Linked DNA regions of Homo sapiens: region 1 is linked to region 2. A link means that fine-mapping ties the variant in region 2 to the expression of a gene that starts in the linked region. Tissue or cell type: kidney cortex. Region 2 holds a variant in brackets; the other region holds the start of a gene. All regions are shown on one strand. Distances are between the middles of the regions.

Evidence for each region. PIP is the estimated chance that this variant, and not a neighbour inherited with it, causes the effect.
Region 1: LINC01226 starts here. The variant in region 2 is the best candidate, but not a certain one, in a credible set for the expression of LINC01226 in kidney cortex (GTEx, PIP 0.76).

What each region holds. Positions count from the first base shown.
Region 1 is chr1:31,517,319-31,520,076 of GRCh38, reverse strand. It overlaps LINC01226 (long intergenic non-protein coding RNA 1226), which reads right to left and starts at 1,642. Exons shown (of 3, transcript NR_027085.1): 1 at 1,241-1,642.
Region 2 is chr1:31,470,736-31,473,493 of GRCh38, reverse strand. LOC124903900 (a long non-coding RNA gene) reads left to right here and starts at 2,018. Exons shown (of 2, transcript XR_007065585.1): 1 at 2,018-2,428. LOC105379772 (a long non-coding RNA gene) reads right to left here and starts at 2,376. Exons shown (of 3, transcript XR_001737618.2): 1 at 2,260-2,376. RefSeq lists an enhancer at 1,533-2,732. The variant T/C (reference allele first, on the strand shown) is at 1,404.

The sequences.
Region 1 (2,758 bases), 47 kb before region 2:
CTCAGTGGGTTGTGACTAAGAAAGCTCATTTCTTGTTCCCATCACAGTCCCATTCTTCCCCAAGTCACAGGAAGGAATTAGCTCCATGTAGTCATTCAGGGACCCAGGCAACTTCCTTCATGAGGTCTTGCCATCTCCTAGGGTATTGAAGTACCCTACTTCTAGCCAGCAGATGAAAAAGAGCAGGAGAAGAAAAGAAGATACAGAAAGAAAATAAAAGTTACTGGGCACCGTTGGGGAAGTTGGGGCACCAACTTATTACTCTAAAAATTGTTAATTAAAGGAAAAGAATTAAGCATTTTTTATGCCTAACTGCATTTTCTGGTAATTAAATAGCCAAAATGAATGAAGGAAAGCTCTTCTATGCAGAAGAATTTCAGCTACTACATGAAGAAAAAATTAGAATCAGAAAATTATCATTTTTTAAGCCCCTAAGAAAATAACTGATTCAAGCAATGGTTTTCAATGGATGCCAAAATCACTCAGTGAAAGGTTGATGGAGAACTTCTCAGTGAAGGGTAAGGTTGCCATTGCCTGAACCTAAAGATAGATCTTAGCATCATTAAAAGCAAGACCAGCAGACATCATATGCCTCCAGGTGTGATGCACTGGAGACTTACAAGGTATCCCATGAAGTATAAAGAAGCAAGTGACTGTATCCCTAGTGTAAAAACTCTACATGAGAATTGACACAGTTTCTTCAGGAAGTCAATAGCACTGAGAACAAATATAGGAAGAGGAATTAATTTATGTTAAAAGAGAGTTAGAGGCTGGGCACAGTGGCTCATGCCTGTAATCCCAGCGATTTGGGAGGCTAAGGCAGCCAGATCACTTGAAGTCAGGAGTTTGAGACCAGCCTGGCCAACACGGTGAAACCCTATCTCTATTAAAAACACAAAAATTAGCCAGGCGTGGTGGCCCACACCTGCAGTCCCAGCTACTCAGGAGGCTAAGGCGCGAGAATCGGCTGAACTGGGGAGATGGAGGTTGCAGTGAGCCAAGATCACACCACTGCACTCCAGTCTGGGTGACAGAGCGAGACTCCATCTCAAATAATAATAATGATTTTTAAAAAGTCAACTAATAACATAAGGTGATGAGTCTGGAAAGGATGGCAAGAAAGCACACTTCATAAATATGAAGGAAAATGAAGAAAACACTTGTGTTAGGGTTCTCTAGATGGACAGAACTAATAGGATATATATATATATATAAGGGAGTTTATTAAGTATTAACTTACATGATCACAAGGTCCCACAATAGGCTGTCTGCAAGCTTGAGGAGCAAGGAGAGCCAGTCCAAGTCTCAAAACTGAAGAACTTGGAGTCTGATGTTCAAGGGCAGGAAGCATCCAGCATGGGAGAAAGATGTAGGCTGGGAGGCTAGGCCAGTCTTGCCTTTTCACCTTTTTCTTCCTGCTGTATATTCGCTGGCAGCTGATTAGATGGTGCCCACCAGATTAAGGGTGGGTCTGCCTTCTCCAGCCCGCTGACCCAAATGTTAATCTTCTTTGGCAACACCCTCACAGACACACCCAGGATCAATACTTTGCATCTTTAATCCAATCAAGTTGACACTCAGTATTAACCATGGTAAGTCCACCCCTTGTCAAGCTGAACCCATACACATCTCCTGAGATCATACATAATCTTCAAATAAAGACAATAATAAGGTCATAATTATGCCTAAAATAATACAACTATCCTTGGTACAACTGGAAACCCACCAATCCCCAACCCAAATATTATTACATAAAGTTAATAATACTTAAATGTTGATATGAAGTCAGTAAATCTTATGTCACATGATAAAGGAAAAGGAAATAAAATGGATATATTTTCTTCGTACAAGTGTATACATGCACAAACATGTTTTTAGCCAAAGAAGGAGGAAATACTCATGATAGTTACAGTCCGCATTTCTGCAGCTGGTCACATGGTCATAGGTGGTATTGATGATTACCTTCTTCTACTACCCATTCTGTATTCCCTTTGCCTTCAGCAAGCACCTCAGCAGGTTGTGGTTTTTTTCCTGGTGGAGTGACCCAAACCTTCATTCCTGAGGGGTCTGGGCTATTTGTAGTCCTGCCTGGATTGCGCTATTGTAGTTTCCCATTGACCTTAATCAAAGGGCATGGTAATACTAAGAGATGCTCTAAAGGATGTCCTGTATTCCATGCATACTCTTCCTTACCTCTGTTATGGAGTAGTAGACTGATTTTATCTTGATAGTTCACCTTCCCACTCCATCTCCCTTCTGGCTCCCCCATCTGCTGAGAGCTACTTCCACTCAATAAAAACTTGCACTCGGTCCCTAAGCCCACGTGTGATCTGATTCCTCCAGTACACCAAGGCAAAAACCCTGGGATACAGAAAGCCCTCTGTCCTTGTGATAAGGCAGAGGATCTAATCGAGCTGATTAACACAAGCTGCCTACAGATAGCAAAACTAAAAGAGCGCTCTGTAACACACACCCATTGGGGCTTCAGGAACTGTAAGCATTCACCCCTAGACACTGCCGTGGGGTTGAAGCCCCACAACCTGCCCATCTGCATGCTCCCCCTAGAGGTTTGAGCAGCAGGGTACCAAAGAAGCGAGCCACACCCCCATTGCAGGCCCTGCGAGGGGGATAAGGGAACTTTTCCCATTTCACTTGTGCTGTGATTCAGTTCCCTGGGTGACTCTGCAGGGAGGCTGGAGGGAGAGAGTTCTCCCAGAGGGACCATCCCACACCCACTTCCACCTAAGAACACCCCAGT
Region 2 (2,758 bases):
GTCAAGAATTGAGGTTTGGGAACCTCTGCCTAGATTTCAGAAGATGTATGGAAACGCCTGGATGCCCAAGCACAAGTTTGCAGCAGAGGCAGGGCCCTCATGGAGAACATCTGCTAGGGCAGTGCCAAAGGGAAATGTGGGGTCGGAGCCCCCACACAGAGTTCCTACTGGGACACTGCCTAGTGGAGCTGTGAGAAGAGGGCCACTGTCCTCCAGACCCCAAATGGTACATCCATGAATAGCTTACACTATGTGCCTGGAAAAGCTGCAGACACTCAATGCTAGCCCATGAAAGCAGCTGGGAGGGTGGTTGTAACTTACAAAGCCACAGGGGTGGAGCTGCCCAAGACGATGGGAACCCATCTTTTGCATCACTCTGACCTGGATGTGAGACCTGAAGTCAAAGGAGATCATTTTGGAGCTTTAAAATTTGACTGGCCCACTGGATTTCAGATTTGCATGGGCCCTTTAACCCCTTTGTTTTGGCCAATTTCTCCCATTTGGAACAGTTATATTTACCCAATACCTATACCCACATTGTATCTAGGAAGCGACTAGCTTGTTTTTTATTTTACAGGCTCATAGGCAGAAGGGACTTGCCTTGTCTCAGATGAGACTTTGTACCATGGACTTTTGGGTTAATGCTGAAATGAGCTAAGGCTTTGGGGGACTGTTGGGAAGGCATGATTGGTTTTGAAATGTGAGGACATGAGATTTGGAGGGGCCAGAAGCAGAATGATATGGTTTGGCTGTGACTCTACCCAAATCTAAACTTGAATTGCATCTCCCAGAATTCTCACATGTTTTGGGAGGGACCCTGGGGGAGGTAATCAAATCACAGGGGCCGGTCTTTCCTGTGCTGTTCTCATGAAAGTGAATAAGTCTCACGAGATCTGATGGGTTTGTCAGGGGTTTCCCTTTTTGCTTCTTCCTCATTTTTTCTCTTGCCGTCGCCATGTAAGAAGTGCTTTTTGCCACCACCCATGATTCTGAGGCCTCCCCAGCCATGTGGAACTGTGTAAGTCCAATTAAACCTCTCTTTATTCCCAGTTTCAGGTGTGTCTTTATCAGCAGCATGAAAACAAACTAATACAGCAGTGCTAAGAGAAAAGTTCATAGCCCTAAATGCCTACATCAAAAAGCCTGAAAGAGCACAAACAGACAATCTAGGGTCACACCTCAAGGAACTAGAGAAACAAGAACAAACCAAATCCAAATCCAGCAGAAGAAAGGAAATAACCAAGATCAGAGCAGAACTAAATGAAATTTAAATAACAACAACAAAATACAAAAGATAAAACAAAAACTGGTTCTTTGAAAATATAAATAAAATTGATAGACCATTAGCAAGATTAACCAAGAAAAGAAGAGAAAAATCCAAATAAGCTCAATTAGAAACAAAA[T/C]AGGAGGTATTACAACCAACACCACAGAAATACAAAAACTCATTCAAGGCTACTATGAACACCTTTACACACATAAACTAGAAAACCTAGCAGAGATGCATAAATTCCTGGAAAGATACAACCCTCCTGGCTTAAATCAGGAAGAACTAGATATTCTTGTTAAAGATCGTGAACTCCAAGTTTCTTTTCAAAGAATCACTATGTCAGTATGTTCAGCTCTCTTTATTCTCCATTTTAAAGTCTAACTTCCTGGTTCTATTGCCCCGCTTGCCTCTAGTTTCAGTAAACAAGTTTCCTGCCAGTTCTAATCAGTAGTTCACATCTGTTCCCCTGGTCACCTGCTTTGTCCTGAGTCACCCCTGGTCACCTGCTCCATCTTGAGTCACCCCTGTCACCTGCTCTGACCTGAATCATCCTGAGTCAACTGTTCTGTAACCACCCCTCCCGCCAAACTTCTCACCCTGTCACTCCAGCTTGTACCCCTGCTCTCTTTAAAATAGCCAATCGGAATTAGCTTACACTGTGCGGTCCAATCCTAGCCAATAGGGGAATGACACAACAGCAGGGACTACCTGCACCAGGAATACGAACCGCTTCCCTCCCCTTGTTCAGGTGTGCTTTCGCCATTACTCCAACCACGAGTCGCACCCTTCTATAGAAGTAAAAATTACCTGGCTGAGAAAATTAAATTTATGTTCAAGTGCTATTTCTCTGCAGCACCAAGGAACAGGCATTTGTTTCTAACAATCTCGTGGCCCATATGGGGAGCTATTCTCCTCTAGGGGTGGCCTCTATTCCTCTCTCACGCCCCACTGCCTTGTTGCGGTGGCCTCAAGAGTCAGGAATCGAGACTCACCTGGTGTGACAAATAAACCTGGACTCAGCAATGTCGAAAGAAACCAGCCGGCGACCCAGGGGAAAGGATCCTCACACACCACAGTGACCAGGCAACTCTGTGCACAGACCGAGGAAGGAAACGCCTGGGAGCCAGCAAAGTATTTCCTTGGTGGTTGGGACAGACCAAGGTAAGAGAAGCCACAGGGGGTGGTGGTATTCCTTGATCAGGACATATCAAGGTAAGAAAAGACACGGAGGAGGTGGGGCGGTGAAGTATTCCCTGGTTGGGGTATCTTGAGGGTTAAAAATAGGCAAGACATTTCTAGCAAGGGGAATTGAGCCTCACACTAAAAATGGGAAATACCCCAAGTAAGGTAAGGGATAAAAAGGATACACTAGCAATGATAATATTCCCCCTAATAATCCGCTCAGCCTAATGATAAAATATTAGAAGGGTAATGAAAGGACCAAAAACAAGAAAAAGCAGCTGCTGTCCCAGACCCTTCTCCTATCCCTGT